3 linked regions of the Homo sapiens genome follow. The protein of the gene in region 2 interacts with the protein of the main gene of each other region in a pairwise test. Each region holds a gene or a part of one and is shown on either strand. Other genes may lie near its edges.

The links.
Region 1: the proteins of SPAG4 (region 2) and TNMD interact in binary tests that used the Homo sapiens proteins (3 or more experiments, as listed by UniProt).
Region 3: the proteins of SPAG4 (region 2) and PGA4 interact in binary tests that used the Homo sapiens proteins (3 or more experiments, as listed by UniProt).

What each region holds. Positions count from the first base shown.
Region 1 is NC_000023.11:100,580,556-100,587,944, reverse strand, and holds the start of TNMD (tenomodulin), read right to left. Parts: upstream 3,010-7,389; 5' UTR 2,927-3,009; coding exon 2,879-2,926; intron 2,715-2,878; coding exon 2,583-2,714; intron 1-2,582. UniProt on the Homo sapiens protein: May be an angiogenesis inhibitor.
Region 2 is NC_000020.11:35,611,747-35,618,843, forward strand, and holds the start of SPAG4 (sperm-associated antigen 4 protein), read left to right. Parts: upstream 1-4,082; 5' UTR 4,083-4,257; coding exon 4,258-4,561; intron 4,562-4,590; exon of another isoform or gene 4,591-4,641; coding exon of another isoform or gene 4,642-4,666; intron 4,667-5,389; coding exon 5,390-5,494; intron 5,495-5,773; coding exon 5,774-5,840; intron 5,841-6,032; coding exon 6,033-6,094; intron 6,095-6,340; coding exon 6,341-6,384; intron 6,385-6,703; coding exon 6,704-6,729; intron 6,730-6,865; coding exon 6,866-6,974; intron 6,975-7,097. UniProt on the Homo sapiens protein: Involved in spermatogenesis. Required for sperm head formation but not required to establish and maintain general polarity of the sperm head. Required for anchoring and organization of the manchette.
Region 3 is NC_000011.10:61,217,554-61,225,355, reverse strand, and holds the start of PGA4 (pepsin A-4 preproprotein), read right to left. Parts: upstream 3,010-7,802; 5' UTR 2,956-3,009; coding exon 2,900-2,955; intron 2,414-2,899; coding exon 2,251-2,413; intron 18-2,250; coding exon 1-17. UniProt on the Homo sapiens protein: Shows particularly broad specificity; although bonds involving phenylalanine and leucine are preferred, many others are also cleaved to some extent.

The DNA.
Region 1 (7,389 bases), on a different chromosome or scaffold from region 2:
AGTCCCAACAAGTCTCATAGATTTGTTAAGGAAAGCCCAAAGAGCCTGGATTTTAATCTGCTGTTGTTTCTTGCTAGGCCATACCATTAAGGGGAGAGTCTTTAATTTATGTAAGATGCCTGTGTCCCTTTCCTATGCAACTCTTCCAAGACTAATCTGACTGCTAGTCTCTTCCCAGAATTCTTAAGTCTGCTCTAAGGCAGGCTTGTTGATAGGCGTACCCATTGGAAACATAGATGGTCTCTTGAGATCTTTGTCTGGGACCTGAAGGTAGTAGTGGACTAAGTAAAGCATCCTCATTTCCAGCTGATTTCTTAGTTTTCAATGAACCAAACCTGGTCTTATGAAGGCCATGACTTAAATATCAAAGACAATGAATCATAACTCCCCACTGGAATGGAAAACCAACAATATTTGTTCATGGTAGAGAAACTTGCCCTAGGGGACACCTGTTGTCTTTATCTGGATTACTTCATAATAGCTTTGTTCATTTCTGAGAGTCCCTTTGCTGAAAATGACATCCCAAAATGGATTACTTCACAAGAGGTTTGATTTTTGATAAACTTTATTCAGCAGCATATCCCACCTCTTCTGTGCATGCACTGACCAAGTTTTATTTTGGTTTGAGGTATCATAGGATTGCTCCTTATAATCATTAAAAACAGAACTAGAATGAGATGTAAAGATGATATAATAGGGAAAGAGAGGAGACCATGAAGCTGCAAGTGAGTTTGACACTTTGCAATAAAAAGGCAAGGTCTCCACCTAGTCGTTTATAGCTGCGTTGAGGCAAATAGCACTGTAAATTTATAAAAACACATATACTCTTTTGGAATAGCATTTGCAGTACCAATGACAACAATAAAACAAGAAAGGCCATTTGGCCCCTTATTTAGGCAAGCATCTAAGGGTGGTCAAAAGGACTAGCTATCCACCATGCCCAGTTAAGTACATTATGGCTGTGGAGAACAAAGGATTTATGGCCCTTTAACTCATGGATAATTTTCAAGAGGATCCAAGGTTCAACTTGTGGGGTGACATATCACCTTGGGAATTAGCTAAGTGGTACCAGAATTGTATTGGAATGCATTTTGGCTCTCTTATTAATTTGCTGTTTCCTTCCTGATCTCGATTGCTTTACCCACCCTGCCAGCCTGAACACAGGTGGCTTCTCTAGAAGGACATTTGAACGGTAAGTAGTTCAGAAGCAAGGAGCAGTAAGGGGAGGAGGAGTAGGGGATAGGGCTAACTATAGGCATTGGGTGATGCCTGAAATCTTTTCTGGAACAAAGTATAAATAAAAAGGCAAACAAAGTAGGCTGGCTTGCTCTCCCTCCTACTTAAACCTGATAAGATATCCTTTGGGACTAAATGAAAGTGGGTATGACAGCAGAGGTGGAGAACCCAAGGGTGGTTATGCTTTATACCTCTGTTATCTTTCAGACACTTAGCCAGCTTATTTTCTGCTTTTCCTGCTCTGCCTCTCTCTCCCCACTGACCCATATTTTTTTCTCTCTGCTCCTATTGCTCCTTTGGCTCCTAACGGTCCATGCCAACCCATTTTCTTGTATCATCCTCCTTCCTGGATTTGTGCTTTTTTCTCCCTACATCTGTTACCAAATAGAAATGAGCATCTTATGACAACCAATTAACAACAGTAATAACAATAACTTCAGCAGCAATCCACACACCAACAGAAAAACATGGCAAAGCCAGAAAACTATCTTCACAACTTGTAGTTTGTATATTTGTTGATTATCTTTCAAATGGAAATTGTGAGCATGAAGGGACTATGGTTTTATTTGGGACTATGGTTTTATTTATTTATTTTATATCTAAACTTGCCCATTGCCTATGAGCCCAGGAATAACAATAACACTAAGGTACAGAAATATAAACTACAGTGGCTAGCCAAGCTTCACCAAATGACCCCAGTATCAGAAGCTTTCTGAGTTATCTGTGATTAATGACTTGGTGTCGCATGCTTCTACCTTGTGGCATTGCTATCTCAGTGGGACAGTGATGATTGCAGCTGGCAAGGAGCTGAAAAGCTCTAGTTTCTTTTTAAAGTCATAAATAAATGTGAAGTCAGGTATGAGAATTGCTCCTCCTGAAAAGCAGCTTGCTGCCTGTTCTCACTGCAGATGCATTAAGTCAGAAACATAATCCCTGAAAATCCTTTGCTGCCACTTTGGGTGGTTTCTCCTTATGTGGTGGTCTAATTACTTTTCCATCAGTTTCTGCCCAGATAATTGAAAGAAAGATTAAAAGTATTTTTTCTTAAGGTAAAAACTTTGCTCCTAGGAGGAGTCTTAACTCCTTAAATATAAGCATTATAGAAGAATGGGTAATTCTACACCCTATCATTACTAACCAAAATATAGAAGATAAATTTTTTTCCCTTACCAAAATAATTAGGCAAATGAAGGAGAGAAAAATCTTGATTCAGTTTTTCATACCACCAGAAAATAAACACAAAAGAGACTTAATGATTTTCATTTTCAGAATAATTTATATGCCTACTAATTAAATTCAATCAAACTCAGAACAGAAGCATCAGATTATGATGTGTATTTACTTACTTTTTTGGGTACCTCCGGCCAGAAGTGCTTGCTCCCCCAAAACAGGACAATTAGAGTTAGGGCCAGGATACCAAACACCAGTCCACAAATCTTAAGTGATTTACATATTTTCTTGGATTTAAAAGCTTCTGCCTAACCAAAGAACAGAGAGAATAAAACAATACACAATAAATCTCAATAAGCAAGCCATAATTCAAAGTCACCTTTGATTCCACTTTCTAATGTTCACTTTGCAATATGATAAATCTGTGAAACCATGCTTCTGCTCAAAAGGGAAAAAATATGAATCAACTTACATTTAGAATGTGACAGTCTTCACAATTCTCTGGAGGATTCTTTGCCATGGTCTCTCAGCACACAGTACTCTTTCCTTGCTTTGAGAGGACTGAGAGACCACTGCTGAGGTGGAGTTGCAAGTGAGTCGGCTAACAGATGCCAGAGGAGAAGCTGAATTTATATGGCTCAAATATGTCATACCAGAGCCTGAGGGAGCCCAGGGGACTCCTGTGCTGCGATTTGTTACATAGATATACCCATATATGTATATAACTTCTGTGCACAGAATTCCATCCAGAATGGCAAAGACAGAAGGTTATAATGAAAACTATTGTCCTGGGGGTTGGGTTGGAAGGGGACCAAGCCTAGAACACATTGAAATGATTTTTCACTATGAACTTAAAATATCAGTGGCAATACATGCTGCACACTCCAGAAATAAGCAAACAAAACAAAGAAGGGAATGAAGTCCTAATTTCGATTCCATTTGGTTCAACAAATATTTATTGCAGGGATATTAAATGTCAGGCACTGTGCTTGGTGTTTGAGATTCAGAAATGAATAAGATATTGCCTCCTTCACTAAGTTAAAGCTCTTTAAATGGTGCTATCAATATGTACTTAACTAATTATAATGAAAACAGGATAAAATAAAGACTAATTCTAAGCTCTCTCTCTTCATCTTCTGTCTCTGATTTTTCTCCTTTCTTGGGTCCTCTTCCTCAGTCTGCTTTTTAATGTTCACATGCCTTATGGTTCTCTTCTTGATGATCATTCTCACTTTACACAGACTTCGTAGATGATATCATTCATTCCTACAGTTGAAAATATCACCTACATATCAGTGATTTCCACATCTGTACCTGTAACCCAGTTATATCTTTTAATTTCAAGGCCATTTGAACATCTCCACCTGGATATACCTCAGGAATCTCAAACTCAACATGTTCTATATCAAAGTCTTCTTTCAACACCTTCTCCTAACCTACTTTTTCCCCTCATATTCCCAACCTTAGTTGGTGGCTATATTAGTTTGCTAGGGCTGCCATAACAAAATACCACAGACTGAGTAGCTTAAATGGCAGAAATTTATATTCTTACTGCTCTGGAGGCTAGAAGTCCAAGATCAAGGTGTTATCAGGGTTGGCTTCTTCTGAGTCCTCTCTCCTTGGCTTGTAGATGACCATCTCCATATTCACATGACATTCTCCCTCTATGTATGCCTGTATCCTAATCTCCTTTCATTATAAGAACATCAGTTATATTGGATAAGGTCCCATTCATATGACTTCACTTAACCTTAATTACCTCTTTAAAAACCCTATCACCAAATACAGTCAAATATAGAAATACTGGGGGCTAGGGCATCAACATATGAATTTTGAGGGAACATAACTTAGCTTATAATAGTGGAATTGTCACGCACCCAGTCTTTCAAACCAAAATCTGAGGTTTGTCTTTCAAACCAAAAATGTGAGGTTTGTCTTTCAAACCAAAAATCTGAGGTTTTGTCTCTTTTTCACATTCCCTTTATCCAATCAATCACTAGATCCTATCTATTCCAATCAATCACTAGATCCTATCTATTCTAAATTTTTATATCTTTGAAAGCTGTTCTTTCCTATTGTGCTCACTGCTAACACCCCAGTTTAGTTTGTCATCCTTTTTGAGAACTTTCACATCCATATATTTTACCCAGGCTGTTCTCTTGGAGCTCCACATCCATATGTCCATCTAACCTGCTAGACATCTACAATACCCAACAGACACCTCAAATTCCATATATCCCGAACTGAATTAGTTATCTCTCCTTTCAAACATGCACTTTTTTTTTGGTATTACCTCTCTCACTAAATGACACAATAATCAGTCTCTAGAATAGAAACTTCCAGATGATCCTTGATTTCTTCCTGTCTTGTTCATCCCCATGGCTAATCAATTATTAAGTCCAGTTAATTCTGCCTCTGAATTAGCTCTGCAATCCTATTCTCTCCATTGTCAATCACCACTGTTTAAGTTGAGGTTCTCAGTCACTTTTACTATTGCAATAGAATTCTGTTTTCCTTGTCTCTCATACATTGTCTTCAAGGTGATCTTTCTAAGACTCAAATTTGAGGATAATCTCTCCCTTGCTTAAAATCCTTTAGTATCTATTCATTGTCTATAAAATCCAAGCCACTTATTGTGACATAGTAGGCATTTAATGATCTCGACTTTGTCCAACTCTCTAGTCTTGATTTTGGACAATTTTTTTCTACAGCGATGGAGCCAACTGGGAGGTCGCAGCTGGGCAGGAAAATGGGGCATGTACATATGACTACCTCCACATCCTAATGTCTCAAGGAAAATAATTTTCTAATTGTTGGATACATGATTGTGCATTAAACTGATTACATAAATTATGAAATATGTCACGATTCTATATGTTCTACAATTCTTTGGTCAAGCTTAAAGAGAGAAAAAAGAAAAGCCACAAGAGCAGTCTCATGGAGAAACTTATGTTTATTGGGTCAGATGGTTCCCCTCAGTGATGTTATTCACACTATGCCTCTGATGCCTGCCTCACACTGTACACCCTATTAATGAACATGCCCTACTTCTTCACACTGTAGGACATTTGCCCATGCTATATTCATTGCCTGGAGTTTTCTGCCTTCCCTTGTTTACCTGGAAAATTCCCATTTGGCTTTCAAAATGCTGCCTAGATGTTATCACCCCCTGAAAGCCTTTCCTGGTCTCATCTCTTCCACTTCGTTAAGTTAATTACCCTTTCCCTTGCTCTACTTTTGTATCTTGCTCATACTTCAACCGTTATACTTTGTATGCTGTATTATAATTCTTTTTTATGTGTTCCTCTCCTGAATAGACTTTGAGATCTTTTAAAACATGCCTTTCTTGTTAAAAGGATTGAATTAAACCAAGAGTCAAAGCAATATTCCATGGAAACATAGAGGGAAGAGTGATTAATTCTGATTCAGAAAAGCAGGAAAAATGGCACAAAGGACATGGCATTTCAATAGACTGTTCATTGATTAGCATGTATTTATTCAGTGTCCCCTATGTGGCAGGCATTGTTATAGGAGCTAGATATATATTCAGTAGTAGACAAGCAAACACAGTTCCTCCTTTATAGAGCTCAGAGTCTTGTTGGGTAGACAGACATTAAACTAAAAGGAAAAAAATCCTGTAAATAAAAGTACATAAATGATGATATATGCTAAGAAGGAAAAGTGCAGGTGCTTTAAAGCACCTAATTTGGATTGGGTGGGATGGGTGAGGGAAATCCATGCTGAGGAGTTGTCACTTAAGCTAAGACCTGAATAATGAGTAGAAGTTAGCTGGTAATGAGTGGGGAAAAGATTATTCCAGGCCAAAGGAACAGCACATGGAAATATCCTGAAGCAAAAAAGGGGTTGAATTATTTAGAGAATAAAAGGAAAGTCAGTGTAGCTGTGATGTAGTGAATGAGGAGGAGAGTTACTTGAGATAAGGCTGAAGAGGTAGGCAGGAGACATATTCAGAGTTGCATCTGCTAGGACTGTTTTTTGCTGTATGTAATAGAAACCAAGTTATGGCAGTTTAACCAAATGAAGGGTTTATTTTTCTCACATAATGGGAGTCACAAAGTCAGCAGTCCAGGGCTAGTTCAAGTACAAGGACCCAAGCTTCCATCTTTCTGTTCTGTGATCTTTTGAGCATGGCCTCCATCATCATGCTTCCAAGATGGCTGCTCCACCTCTAGGCAGGATAAAGGGGGGATAGCAAAGGGCAAAAGAACATGTGGCAGCTAAATTTGTCCCTTTCCATTAAGAAAGTAATAGTGTTCCTGGAAGCCCTGTCCTGTAGATTTTTGCTTATCTTATTGGCCAGAACTGGGTTGGATGACCACTCCTACTTATAGTGGGGTCTGGGGAGGTTTTATTTTCAACTGAGCCTGTTACCACTCTTAATAATATCTTTTTATGTATATATAGAAGGGGGAAACATATTGAGTAGGCAACTTATAATTTCTGCCACAAAGGTCATGGTAAATGTTTGAAGTTTATTTATTTAAAATTAGAAATAGGGTCTTGCTATTTTGCCCAGGCTGGACTTGGCCCAGACTCAAGTGATCCTCCTACTTCAGCCTATCAAGTTGCTGGCATTACAGGCATGTGCCCGTGTACTCAACTGAAGTTATTCTACAAACAATGGGAATTAATTGAAAAGTTCTAAGTAGAATTCCTTTTATGTTTATTAAAATCTCTCTGGCTGCTGTGAGAAGAATGAATTGTAAGGGGGCAAGAGTTTTAAAAGGTTGACCAGTTAGGAGGTAACTGAAAGAGATTATAGTGGCTTGGACTAGGAAGTGGTAGCAGAGATGGAAATAAGTAAACAGATCTGGGACATATTTTAGGTAAAGCATATACTTGGTGATAGATTGAATATATAGAGAATGAGAGAAAGGGAAGAACAAAAAATAACATAGATTCTGGTTTGTGCCTTTGGGTGGACAGTGGCACCATTCACTGGGATTAGGAAGCACTGAGGAG
Region 2 (7,097 bases):
AGGGACAGGCTGTTCTGTTTTTTAAAAAGGCCCAGATTAGACCTGAAACCCTCAGATGCTGGAGGAAGGCTTCACCTCCCCACAGTCTTTTTTTTTTTTTTAAGACAGTGTCAGCCAGGCACAGTGGCTCATGCCTGTAATCCCAGCACTTTGGGAGGCTGAGGAAGGCGGGTCAAGAGGTCAGGAGATCGAGACCATCCTGGCTAACATGGTGAAACCCCATCTCTACTGAAAATACAAAAAATTAGCTGGGCTTGGTGGTGGGCACCTGTAGTCCTAGCTACTCGGGAGGCTGAGGCAGGAGAATGGTGTGAACCTGGGAGGCGGAGCTTGCAGTGAGCCAACATCGTGCCACTGCACTCCAGCCTGGGTGACAGAGCAAGACTCTGTCTCAAAAAAAAAAAAAAAAGACTGTCTTACTCTGTTGCCCAGGCTGGAGTACAGTGGTGCGATCTCAGCTCACTGCAACTTCCGCTTCCTAGGTTCAACCAATTCCCTAACTCACCCTCCCCAGTAGTTGGGATGACAGGTGTGCACCACCACGCCTGGCTAATTTTTGTATTTTTAGTACAGAGACGGGGTTTCACCATGTTGGTCAGGCTGGTCTATGAACTCCTGATCTTGTGAGCCCGCCTCAGCCTCCCAAAGTGCTAGGATTACAGGCGTGAGCCACTGTGCCCGGCTCACCTCTATTAAAAGGACCCAAAGGAGTTAACGGACAGAAAACGTGGCAGAGGCAGAGATGGGGTGGTATGGACCAGAATTTGTAGTTTGCAGTGATTTCGCCTTCCTCTCCCTTCTTCCGTGTGGGCCCTGTGGCACCTAATGAAGCAAGGTATTGAGATCATCCCTCTGGAGCCTGGCATGGGCATCTCCCCTCTGGGCTAGAACATAGCTTAACAGATTGTCCGTGTGCCTCAACCCCTCAAAAACTGCCACTTCCAGTTCCTAACATTCTTGTTTTGTTTTGAGACGAAGTCTTGCTCTGTCACCCAGGCTGGAGTGCAGTGGTGCGATCCCAGCTCACTATGACCTCCGCCTCCCAGGTTCAAGCGATTCTTCTGCCTCAGCCTCCCAAGTAGTTGGAACTACAGGCACACGCCACCACACCCAGCTAATTTTTGTATTTTTAGTAGACATGGAGTTTCACCATATTGGCCAGGTTGGTCTTGAACTCTTGACCTCAAGTGATCCACTGCCTGGGTCTCACACAGTGCTGGGAGTACAGGCGTGAGCCGTCATGCCCGGCCCCAGCTCCTCACATTCTAAGGAAGTTGTGAGATGGCAGTTAAGAGGACTGCACTCGAGGGCAGGATTTGGGAATTCTAATGTGATGCAGTGTTATTCCTCTACCTGGACCTGTTTGCCTAGCTGTGCAACTTGTGCATGACATACTGCATTGTCTTTCAAAATGTGGTTGTTGTTTTTCTTTTTTCTTTTTTTTTTTTTTGAGACAGAGTCTCACTCTGTGGCTCAGGCTGGAGTGCAGTGGCACAATCTTGGCTCACCGCAACCTCTGCCTTCTGGGATCAAGTGATTCTCCCGCCTCAGCCTCCCAAGTAGCTGGGACTACAGGCACGGGCCACCACGCCCGGCTAATTTTTGTATTTTTAGTAGAGATGGGGTTTCACCATGTTGGCCAGGCTGGTCTCAAACTCCTCACATCAGGTGATTCGCCCACCTCAACCTCTCAAAGTGCTGGGATTGCAGGCGTGAGCCACCAAGCCTGGCCCCAAAATGTGGTCTTTAACCAGGATCACAAATGTGGTTGTTAAAAATGCACACTCCAGCCGGGCACAGTGGCTCATACCTGTAATCCCAGCACTTTGGGAGGCCGAGGTGGGCGAATCACCTGAGGTCCCGAGTTCGAGACCACCCTAGCCAACATAGTGCAATCCCGTCTCTACTAAAAATACAAAAAAAAAAAAAGTTAGCCAGGTGTGGTGGCACATGCCTGTAATCCCAGCTATTTTGGAGGCTGAGGCGGGATAATTGCTTGAACCCAGGAGGCAGAGGTTGCAGTGAGCCGAGATCGTACCATTGTATTCCAGCCTGGCCACAGAGCAAGACTCTGCCTAAAAAATAAACAAAAACAAAACAAAAGCACATTCCTGGGCCAACTCAGAAATTCTGCAGTATCTGCAGTAGAATCACAAGGTGTGCCTGGGAAGCTGAATTTCTATAAGCTGCACTGATATTCTGTTACATAGCAAGAGTTTGGGGACCTCTAGTCTTCTGGCTGTGACCATCTGATTCCTCATTCTTTCCTCCATGGCTCAGGTGTGCAGCCTGAGTGTGGGTATGACGATTGGTGGGTGCTGAATTCTCAACCCACAGACCCCTGGGAAAAATGGGTCTGGAGGAGGGACCCACAGATCCTGAATGAGCTCTCTGACCTGATGTCTAGGATGAGAGGAGGGGGCTGAAGGGCTTGCAGAGCAAAGGGGACTAAGTATTTAGAAGTGCCCTGAGTGATGCCCTGCTCCTTCTTAACATTCATTATTTGCAAATATTTGAGCACCTACTACATGCTAGGCTTATCTAGGTGCTGGAGGATACAGTAGTGAATGAAAATCTGTGCCCTGATTAAGTTTATGTTCTAGTGGGCATGGCAGGCAATAAGGAAATAAATAAATGGGCCAGGCATGGTGGCTCACATCTGTAATCCCAGCACTTTGGGAGGCAGAAGTGGGTGGATCACTCAAGCTCAGGAGTTGAAGACCAGCCTGGGCAACATAGCGAGACCCCATCTCTACAAAAAATACAAAAATTAGCTGGGTGTGGTGGCGCAAGCCTGTAGTCCCAGCTACTCGGGAGGCTGAGGCGGGAGGATTGCTTGAGGCCGGGAGATGGAGGTTGCAGTGAGCTGAGATCATGCCACTGCACTCCAGCCTGGGCAACAGAGCGAGACTCCATCTCAAAGAAAGAGAGAAATGAAATATATAGCATGTTAGTGACACGTGCTGAGGAGAAAAACAAAACAGGGAAGGGGGATAGAAACTGGTATTTGCTAAGTGCAATTTTAGATGGGGTTTTCTAGGAAGTGCTGTGACGTCATCACTTGCTTTAAAAGAGGCCAGGCGCAGTAGCTGACTCCTGTAATCCCAGCACTTTGGGAGCCCCAGGCAGGCGGATAACCTGAGGTCAGGAGTTCACGACCAGCCTGGCCAACATGGTAAAACCCCGTCTCTACAAAAATACAAAAATTAGCCAGGCATGATGGCGGGTGTCTGTAATCCCAACTACTCGGGAGGCTGAGGCAGGAGAATCGCTTGAACCCGGGAGGCGGAGGTTGCACTGAGCCGAGATTGCACTACTGCCCTCCAGCCTGGGCGACACAGCAGGACTCTGTCTCAAAAAATAAAAATAAAATAAAAATAAAAATGCTGGGCGCAGTGGCTCATGCCTGTAATCCCAGCACTTTAGGAGGCCGGGGCGGGTGGATCACCTGAGATCGGGAGTTCAAGACCAGCCTGACTAACATGGAGAAACCCCGTCTCTACTAAAAATACAAAATTAGCCAGGCATGGTGGTGCATGTCTGTAATCCCAGCCACTCAGGAGGCTGAGGCGGGAGAATCGCTTGAACCCGGGAGGCGGAGGTTGCAGTGGACCAAGATCGCGCCATTGCACTCCAGCCTGGGCAACAGAATGAGACTCCATCTCAAAAAAAAAAAAAAAAGAAAGAAAGAAAGAAAGAAAGAAAGAAAGAAAGAAAGAAAGAAAGAAAGAAAGAAAGAAAGAAAAAAACTGTTATAGACTGAGTGCCATTTTAGATGGGGTTTTCTGGGAAGTGCTGTGACATCATCGCTTGCTGTAAAAGAGGCCGGGCGCGGTGGCTGACGCCTGTACTCCCAGCGCTTTGGGAGGCCGAGGCGGGAGGATCGCTTGAGCCTAGGAGTTCGAAGTTACAATGAGCTATGATCAGGCCACTGCACTCCAGCCTGGGCAATGAGAAAGACCCTGTCTCTTAAACAACAACAAAGTCAGAAGGAGAGGCTGCCATGGCTACGGCTCCAGGTGACGTCACGGCCAGCTCCGTGACGCGCGGCCAGGGCAGCCCGCGGAGACCGAGGCTCCTCTGTGACGTCAGCAGCCGGCCGGGACACAGCGGGAGGGCAGGTGCGGCCGCGGGGCCTGCCGACTTCACGCAGGGTCCGTGGGGTCCCCGCGGCGCGCAGCGGCTGAAGGAGGCCCCAGGGCCTTGGCGACCGCAGCGGCGGCTTTAGCGTCAGTGACTAGGCAGCAGGGGGTCAGGATGCGGCGAAGCTCCCGCCCGGGCTCGGCCTCGTCCTCGCGCAAGCACACGCCCAACTTTTTCAGCGAGAACAGCTCAATGAGCATCACCTCGGAGGACAGCAAAGGGCTCCGGTCAGCGGAGCCCGGGCCTGGGGAGCCCGAGGGCAGAAGAGCCCGGGGCCCGAGCTGCGGTGAGCCCGCCTTGAGCGCGGGAGTGCCCGGAGGAACCACATGGGCAGGAAGCTCTCAGCAGAAGCCAGCGCCTCGGAGCCACAACTGGCAGACAGCCTGTGGCGCGGCAACCGTGAGGGGCGGGGCCTCGGGTGCGGGCGGGGTCGACCCCGGGTGAGCCAGTGGAGGGGGCGGGGCCTAAAGGGCGGTGCTGGGCGGGGACGGGGCTAAGATGATATCTGGGCACCTCCTACAAGGTGGGTCCTGTAGGGTAAAGGGATGGTGCTAAATGAGATCCCTTAAGGGGCGGAGCCTCGGTGTCCTGGACGGTTATGGGAAGGGGCGGGGAAAATCTTGTGGTTGGGTGCCACTGAGGGGGCGCGGCCTCAATGTTAGCGTGAGTGGCTCCCAGGACAATTGGGTTCCACCAAGATCTAAGGCTGGGGGCGGGTCATCCGTTTGGGGGAGGGACCAACTCTTTTTTTTTTTTTTTTGCAACGGAGTTTCGCTCCTGTTGCCCATGCCATGCAATGGCATGATCTCGGCTCACCGCAACCTCCGCCTCCCGGGTTCAAACGATTCTCCCGCCTCAGCCTCCCGAGTAGCTGGGATTACAGGCGTGCGCCACCATGCCCGGCCAATTTTTGTGTTTTTAGTAGAGACGGGGTTTCTCCGTGTTAATCAGGCTGGCCTCGAACTCCCGACCTCAGGTGATCCGCCCGCCTCGGCCTCCCAAATCGCTGGGATTACAGGCGTGAGCCACCGCGCCCGGCCAGGAGACCAACTCTTGACGGAGCCTCCCTGAGGGGCGGGGCTTCAGAGGGCGGAGCTGGAGCCGGGATAGGGCTGCGGTGGGACCAAAGCCTGTGAGAGACTTCCCAGCTGTCTGGCTTGTGGACTGAGCAATCTGCGGCCCGGTCTCGAGGGGAAAATAGGTCTGTGGTCCGCAAGGCCCCAGTGGAGCCCTTGGGTTCCCGCAGAACCGACTGGGTCTCCAGTAGTCTCTGAGGAGCCGCTCGACCTTCTCCCGACCCTGGATCTGAGGCAGGAGATGCCTCCCCCGCGGGTGTTCAAGAGCTTTCTGAGTACGGGCCAGGCCAGCTGCGATCCCCTCTGACCCTCGGGTTCCCCTCTCCGAACTCCAGTTCTCTCTGAGCCCCCGGCCCCCGTTTGAGTATCGAGCCCCTCTCCGAGCCTCAACTCATTCCTAGCCCCCATCCAATTATCCTAGCCGACCCTCTCTTCCTGAGCCCCAGGCCCACCCCCGGCCCCTCCCAAGCCCCTTCTGAACCCGGACACCACGCAGGCTGAGCCCCGCCTCTCCCTGCCGTGGGCCCCTCTCTGACCCTCTGTCCTGGCCTCAGGCCTGCTCTTCCAGGGGCTGAGCGTGTTGTTATCCCTGGCAGGAGACGTGCTGGTCAGCATGTACAGGTCAGAGGAAGGGACGCTGGCGCCCCAGGAACAGCTCTTTGGAGGGGGTGGGGAGCAGGGCCGGAACCTTGCTGGCGCTTGAGCCGATTCAGATCTGATTGAGTCATGTTGGCAAGAGCTGGGTCTAGGACCCTGGGGTGGGGACTGGAGGGTTGAGCAGGTCGGGGCCTCAGCCTCCCTCCGGTTCCCCAGGGAGGTCTGTTCCATCCGCTTCCTGTTCACGGCTGTGTCGCTGCTGAGCCTCTTTCTGTCAGGTGAGGGGCAGTGAATTCCCTGGAGCCCCTGCCCTGGGTGCTTTGGAGGCAAACCCAGCACATTTTCTCCTACATCCTCGGTCCTGCAGCTCCTGGCATTCCCCTGCAGAACCCCCTAATTCCCCCTCAGACTCCCACGGTCCTCCCCAGGCTTAACCCCCTCAAGCCTCTTTCCACTGTCCCCCTATGCCGGGGAAACCCATTCTCTTCCTTTTCCTTCTGAGACCCCTCCCTCTCTTTCTCCAGCATTCTGGCTGGGGCTTCTGTACCTGGTCTCTCCTTTGGAGAATGTGAGTTGGGGAGACTGTCTTGGGGTAGGGGGTTGGCAGGTTGTGAACCCGGAGATTGTGGGGGTCCCCTGGACTGTCGGTCTGCTGGGGTGGGGGTAGTGCCAGAGGCTACAATCCTTAAGAAAGGGCTGGATATAAACAGACTTATGAGGGATTGTGCTTGAGGGTCTCTTGGGGGCTCTGATACTGGGAGGTCAAGGAGGAGTCGAGGAAAGGGGACACAGTCTTCAAAAAGGAAGCCCTGGCCGTTTCCAGGCTGAGGTAGGAGCAAGGACGACGGGAGCTGAGCGGCTCTGTGTTTTGTCCCTTCATCCAACAGGAACCTAAGGAGATGCTGACTCTAAGGTGAAAGAGGGCACCTAGGGTGGGAAATTGGGGGGCTCAAAGTTGCTTCTTTGAGAACCTTGAAGGCGTGGGGGCCTTTGGGAGGTGTCCAGGGGGACAGGGAGCCAACCCCACGGCGCCCACCTCCCACCTCCAGTGAGTACCACGAGCGCGTGCGCTCCCAGGGGCAGCAGCTGCAGCAGCTCCAGGCCGAGCTGGATAAACTCCACAAGGAGGTGTCCACTGTTCGGGCAGCCAACAGCGAGGTGAGCCCCGGCCCACCTTGGAAACCCCTGATGGATCCCTGCTCCCAGGGTCCTGAGACTTAAGCTCCGCCCAGAGCCCTGCGGGATTTCTCCCGGTGCCCACGAAGTCCATCCCAAAGCAAC
Region 3 (7,802 bases), on a different chromosome or scaffold from region 2:
GTGCCGAAGTACTCCATCTGTCCAGGCGAGGACAGGGCAGTTCACGGAACGGGGTCTCTCTGTCAGGGCCTCCCTAGGGGCTGTCTCTGGGTCATCTCCTCAGTCTGCCTCTCCATCTTTTCCTTCATTCCTCACAGTTCTTATCTTTCTCTTCCCAGCCACTGTCTTCATCCTTCAAATCCCAGCCCTGGCGTCCCTTCCTCCTTGAAGTCTTCCCTGATTGCTCCCCCAATTTACCCTCTGCTCTCTGTTAAGCACCACAAGCACCTAACAATCTGCTGTTCCCTCTTTAGCCATTGTCTTGTCTGTCACAGTCTTCCCATCCGTACAGCGCATGTTCTCAGAGGATGGCGGTGGAACCTTCTAGCACCGGGCAAGTTACAGCTTAAGTGCTTGTGCCTTAAATTGTTTATCAGAAGCTAAGCAAGCCACTTAAAGATGGAAACCTGTCCAGTTTTCTTATTTCTACATCTAGATGTGTATAGCAGGTTGCAAGAAAGGGCATTGACAGTATTTTTATTCTTTTTTTTTGAGACAAGTCTCACTCTGTTGTCCAGGCGGGAGTGCAGTGGCGCGACCTCGGCTCACTGCAGCCTCCTCCTCCTGGGTTCCAGTGATTCTCCTGCCTCAACCTCCCAAGTAGCTGAGATTACAGGTGTGTGCCATCATGCCCGGCAAATTTTTGTATTTTTAGTAGAGACGGGGTTTCACCATGTTGCCGGGCTGGTCTCGAACTCCTGACCTCAAGTGATCCACCCGCCTCCGCCAATCAACCAGTATTTTTCTTGTTAGTGGCAGCATTTTCCCCCTGCCGGCTCTGTTCCCGCCACACTGGTCTGCTTGCTGTTCTTTGGCGATGACCAGTCACTCCTGCCCTAGGGCCTTTGCACTGGCTATTCCTTGTGCTAGGAAAATGTTTATTCTAGATCTTTCCTTGGCTGATCCTTTTATCAAAAATCAATCATTCAGCTCTCTAGTCAAATGTCCCCTCTGCCAACAGGCCTTCCGTGACCACTTTATCTAAATTTGCCCCCTCTCAATCTTCTTGTTCCCCATGCTCCCATTAATTAATTTGCCAAGGCCCTTATCATTACCTGAAATTATCTTACATGGTTGTTTATTTGTTATCCCCTTTAGAGTATAAGCTCCAGGAACTTTGATTATTCACCATCATTTTGGCAACTTGCATAGCCTCTGGCACATAGAGAGGTGCCAATATTTGTTAAATATTTGTGAACTAAATAAATGCGCTAATTAAGCCTCTTACCAAGGGCCTGGCAGACCCCATGCTAAGCACTCCAGAAAACATGATCGTGTTAATTCCTGGCAACATCCTCTGACGGTAGATATTAGTGGTTCTGTTTTCCAGACCAAGACACAGGCTCAGAGTATTTAAATGACTTGGCCAAGGTCCTGTGGCTTAGAGGCACTAGGACCCATATTTGCACCAGGTCTGCTGGATGGCAGAGGCCAGTCTCTGAACCACAGGCATCACTGCTTTGTGCCCTGTGCCAGTCACAGAGGGGACATACAATATCTGCAGGAGGGCAGGGTGTTTGCTATCGGGTCTCAAATAACAAAGTCAGGGTGATCTTTCTGAAACTCAGATCTGATCTTGTCATCCCCCTGTTTAAGATAAATCAGAGGCAGTTAGGATGGAGCCTCTCTGCGTCCACCCCTCAGTTCCTCGGACCGCAGTCTGCAGCACCCTTCTTCCCTCCCTCTCGGCTCCCCTTCAAAGGCACTGTGCTCCCGCCTGCTACAGGGTTTGGCACAAGGGATCAGGCTATGCGGAGTTCTGTCTTGTTCTCTTGGAAACTCCTGCTCTTCCTGCGTGGCTCCAGGGAGGCTCCCTGCCCAAGTGGCAGACTCTCGCAGTGTGACACCGTCACTCTGTAGTCCTCCTGCTGCCTGTTCTTTTCATTGGTTTGCGAGACCCCTTGATGACTGTGTTTGTCTCCTAGGCTATGAGTTTGCTCACTGCTGTCTCCCCCTGAGCCCAGCACAGGCCCTGAAATAGAATGAGGCGCTCAGAGAAATTAACATTGCATGAACGAGTGAACGAATGAATGAATGAACTCTGACTGTGAGCTTTCCTGCCTGCCCTGGGCCACTGACATCTAGGGGGCAGACTCTGGGTCACTGCCTGGAGCCACAGAGCCCAGGCCCGTCCTCCAAGACCCCTGGGACACCCTCTTTCCTGCGGGCCAAGTCCTCAGAGCTGGCCCCACCACTTGCCCGCACACTCACATCCAGGTAGTTCTCCAGGGGCTGTTCATCTACCAGGGTGGGAGCCTCCCACTGGGGGAAGTACTTTCTGGCTGGGTTGAGGTTGTGCTTCTTCAGGAAGTCCTTCAGCAGGCCACGCTCGGACAGGGTGCGCCTCAAGGACTTCTTTCTGATGAGGGGGACCCTGTGGTTTGGAGAAGGAAGAGGAATTAGGCAAGGATTCTGCTGACCGGGTGCTGTGGCAGCCCCAGAAGGGAAGGGAAGCTGGTCTAAGAGAGGAAGAAGGAAGGAAAGGAGACGCCCCCTCTTCTGCCCAACAATGCAAAGAAGTTAAGTTGACTAGTGCTGGAGCTGGGAGCCAAACCCAGGCTGGACTCTTAACCAGCTGATCTAAGAGAGGAAGATGGAAGGAAGGGAGAAGCTCCCACTTCTGCCCCATAATGCAAAGAAGTTAAGCTGACTAGGGCTGGAGCTGGGAACCACAGTCAGGCTGGGCCCGAGTTTTAACCATGTCTGCAGGGCTGCCTCCCAAAAAGGCAGAGAGAGAGGCGGAAAAGGGGGATGGAGACAGCTGAAGAGAGAGAGAAAAAAAAGGGAAGAAGGAAGACACGGGAGGAAAGAAAGGTGATGTGGGAGGCAGCGTCTTCACACCCACACCACCCGGACTCACTTGTACATGATGCACTCAGAGAGCGCCACCAGACCCAGCAGCAGCAGCCACTTCATGGTTCTTCCCGGGTCCCAACTCGAGGGAGAAGGCAAGATGGGAGGAAGGTGCAGAGCAGCAGCATGAGCTGCCCCTTATATACAAGTTGGGTCCCGCCTTATCGGCCTCTGAAAGTCACCGGTTCCCCTGATCCCAAACAGAGAAGCTCCTGATAAGATTGTGGCTGCCCTGAGCCACATTCTGAGACCTTTCCAGCTGAGGCACTTTCCATTGTAACCTTGCACCATGGGGAGGGGGGAGGGTGCCATGGGGGTGGACCCGCAGAGAGAGAGAGGAGCAATGACCGGGAGGCTATTTTCTTTTCTTTTCTTTTTCTTTCTTTTCTTTCTTTCTTTTTTCTTTTTCTTTCTAAGCAATGACCTGGAGGCTTATTTGTTTTCTTTTCCTTTCTTTCCTTTCTTTTCTTTCCTTCCTTTCCTTCTTTCTTTCCCTTTCTTTCTTTTTCTTTCTTTCTTTTCTTTCTTTCTCTTTCTCTCTTTCTCTCTCTCTCTCTCTTTCTTTCTTTCTTTCTTTCTTTTCCTCTCTTTCTCCCTTTCTCCCTTTCTCCATTTCTTTCCTTTCTTTCCTGAGGGAGTTTTGCTCTGTCGCGCCGCCAGAGGCTTATTTCTGAAGCATTGACAAGGGCCTACGTTAAAACTTTACCAGCTGAGCATTTTGACAAAGTTGGTTAAAAGTGCGTTTAACACAGCATTGGAGAGATGTGAAGGAGCCCCAGGTGGCCTGATTTGTCCCAGAGGGCATGCAGCTGGGGTTCTTAGAGAGCAGCCTCCCGACTCAGTCATAGGTGGTACTGGTTGTGGTCACTGCTTATTCACAGCACATTGGGGGGGTCAGTCGTTTGGGACTCAGGACACAATTCCCCACATAAGTGTCATTGTGTGGGGTTGTTGGGCGTCTGACTAGCCTATGGGCCTTGTGGCTTGCTTTTGGTGCAACTGGGCTGAGTCTGGGAAGGAGATGTGCACAGTACACGGGGGAGGAGGGAGACAGCACCGGGAGAATGCTGCCTTCCCTTCCTGGAGGAGGCAAACTTCAGACAGGCCAGGTATGTCTTTGGAATCTGTGTCCCTCCCTTTCTGCACCGCTTCTCTTTCTTTTGCTCCTTTCCCACCCTCTCCACCTTTGAGATCCCACCTGGGTCTGATTTCTCCAGGTGCTCCAGGCTTACAACTGGGTTGAAATCAGCTACAATGGAGCGAAGCAATCTGGGCAAACAATTCATACTCATGGGTGAGTGACTTAGAAAGAGGATGCTTGGCCGGGCGCCGTGGCTCACGCTTGTAATCCCAGTACTTTGGGAGGCTAAGACAGGTGAATCACCTGAGGTTAGGAGTTCAAGACCAGCCTGGCCAACATAGTGAAACCCCGTCTCTACTAAAAGTAGAAAAGTTAGCTGGGCATGGTGGTGGGCGCCTGTAATCCCAGCTACTGGGTAGGCTGAGGCAGGAGAATCACTTGAACCCAGGAGGCAGAGGTTATGAGAGGTGAAGCCGTCTGGGCTTCTGAGTCGATTAGGGACTTGGAGAACTTTCGTGTCTAGCTAAAGGATTGTAAATGCACCAATCAACATTGTGTGTCTAGCTAAAGGCTTGTAAATGCACCAGTCAGCACTCTGTGTCTAGCTGAAGGGTTTGTAAATGCACCAGTAAGCACCAGCTATTACACTCCCCGCGAAGGTCTGCAGCTTCACTCCTGAAGCCAGTGAGAGCACGAACCCACCAGAAGGAAGAAACTCTGGACACATCTGAACATCTGAAGGAACAAACTCCGGACACACCATCTTGAAGAACTGTAACACTGATCGCGAGGGTCCACGGCTTCATTCTTGAAGTCAGTGAGACCAAGAACCCACCGGAAGGAACCAATTCAGGACATAGTTGCAATGAGACGAGATCTTGCCTCTGTACTCCAGCCTGCGTGACAGAGCTAGACTCCGTCTCAAACAAAACAACAACAATAACAAAAAAAAAAAGACAAAAGAAAAAAGAAAGAGGATCCTTACCAACCCAATGGATCCTCCACTTTGTGAGCTTTTATTCAGTGAAGAAAGTAGAGTGAAAACTCTGATGCAGAAATTGCTGGGGAGGAGGACAGGGGAGCGGGGAGGTCACCAGGTAGATAGGAAGCCCTGTCTCAGGGTCTTGTTCTGAAATCGGATCCCCTGGGGCATCCTCAGACTGTCCAGCCATGAGAGCCACAGGTTCTATAAAAGCTCCAAGTTGCCCCCAGTGCCTCCAGGTGAGTATTGAGGAGTGGGCAGTGTGGATAAGTTCAGGGACAGTGGTGGTTGGTAGAAAACACATTGACATTACACACTCCCCAGTTAGTTGAAATCTTTGTGCCCCAAATGTGAATCCTGGGCCCATTTTCTTTTGTTTTCTTTTCTTTTTTTTAACTGTGAATGTTACTCCAGTATGACTAGCCCTTGTATTTTCCACGTTCACGTCCTCTGGTGCCTCCTTCTCTTCCTCTCAAGCTTCTCTCTCTCTCTCTCCCTTTCTTTTTTTTTGAGACAGGGTCTTATTCTGTCACTCAGGGTAGAGCGTAGTGGCATGAACATGGCTTACTGCAGCCTCAACCTCCCACGCTCAATCAGTCCTCTGGCCTCAGGCTCTGAGTAGCTGGGACGAAAGGCATGAGCCACTACACCGAGCTAACTTTTGTATTTTCTGTAGAGACAGGGCTTCACTATGTGGCCCAGGCTGGTTTCGAACTCCTGGGCTCAAGCGATCTTCCTGCCTCAGCTTCTCAAAGTGCTGGGATTACAGTGAACCACACTGCACCTGGCCCTCTCTCTCTTTATGGATACATAATATTTTACATATTTTTTGGGTTCATGTGATATTCTGTTACATGCATAGAAAGAGTAATGATGAAGTCAGGGTATTTGGAGTATCCGTCACCTTAAGTATGGGTTGATCCTAGCACTCATGTGAGGAACCTGATGGTCCTGAAGATGCTGCCTAAGTTCTGGGGGCACCAGATGGAATCCCCTCACTCAAGGCTGCCACCAGATGGAAGGGAGGGAGCTTGGAGCCCAAGGATGGGCACTGATTTTGGGGGCACAGCTTGTCTGGGGCCCACATGGGAATTTTGAGCAGAGGAGAAGTATATTTGGGAAGCAGAAGGAAGATTCCCCAGGCAGAAACGTGCAAGCCCCTTTACACATTCATTCAAATGCCTTATTGTGCACTTGCTGTGTACCGTGCAGGGATGCTCTAGCTGCGGAGGGTACATCCCTGAGCATGGTAGGACTAGGCCGTGCCTTTGGCGCATTTGTGGTCAGTTGAAGGGAAAGCTGGTGTGGAAGGGGCTCTTCCTTTCCACCTGGATGGATATTTGGATCACATTGAGGGGAAGCTCTCAGATTGGTGAAGATGATAATGTTTCTCCACATTAGAGATTTTAGCACCCTGAGGGACGCTGGCATGCTTGCTGACACCAATTCAGGGGTATGGCAGAGAGACTGTAGGATGGCCCCCAATTATTCATGCTGCTGGTGGTCACACCCCTGTATAATCCCCTCCCCTTTTGTGTAGGCAGGACTTGCTTCTAACTAACAGGATACAGCAAAGTAGATGGGATGTCAGTTTTGTGATGACATTATACAGGCTTGTAGCTTGTGTCTTGCTAGCACACTCTCTGTATAGACTCTTCCCCTTGCTGACTCTGATAAAGAAAGCTGCTCTATAAAGAGGCCCAAGAGGAAGGAACGAAGGGTGGCCTCCAGCTGACAGCCAGCAAGGAACTCAGGCTTTCAGTGTGACAATCTGCAAGTAACTGAATCCTGCCAGCAAGCGTGTGAGCATGGAAGCAGATCCTTCTCCAGTCAAGCCTCAGATGAGACCACAGACCAGGCTGACATCCCTGACTGACAGAGGCCTCAGCTGAACCGAGCCTGGATTCCTGACCCACAGAAACTGAGATAGTGAGTCAATGTGAGTTGTTATAAGTCATTCAATGTGTGTTAACTTCTCATCAGCAATAGAAAACAGGACTGGAAACCTTGTTGATAACTCGAAAAGGATCCACCTGATTGCCTCTTGCTCTTCCCTCTTTTGGGACCATTTCAGTGCTCTGCTAGTTGTTTTTCTGCTCAGGTAATGTGAGTGATCTGAAAAGGGGGAAGGTGACATTGTTGGTCAGGTCATCTGCAAATCTCCCACCACACAGCAGTGCTTACATTTGTGTGCCTATTTGTGCTTTTCTGAATGCTTTGAATTATTTTAAAAAAGAATTATTATACTATAACCCCCACTTTTTCGCAAGTGATGTAGCTCAAAGGGGTTAAGTGATCAGTGCAGGTTCACATAACTAAGTAATGACACAGATGGGACCTGAACCTGGGTCTCCGGAGGCTCTGGTCCCTGGCCAGACTATGTGACCATGTACATCCACCTGGTTTCTGTTCATGGGTTAGCGTGTGACAGGAATATTCCATGATGGCTGCAGCCTCCCTCCCAGGTGCACTTGGAGAAGCCATTCCACTCAGCCCCCTTTACTAGAGGAACCCTTGGGATGGAAAAGGGAATCCTGATTCTGCAACCACGTGCTCCCATGGGATCTGATTGTCAGCCAGGGCTGATCCGTGGCTGCCAGCAAGGAAGCCGCAACATCTCATTGTACGAGACTGGCCCGGCAGAAAGATTAGACAGCAACGTTTGCTTTGCCATTAGCCCTGCCTGGCACTCAGTATGGTATTGCCTGGCTTTCAGGGGGACTGGTAGCAGTGTCTCTGATGCAGGGCAGCCCCTGCCAATGGCACAGGTGTTCATAAATGTTCCATGAACCAATCAAATCAAGCAATGGAATGAGATCTAAGGAACCCAATCATGGCAAGGCTGAG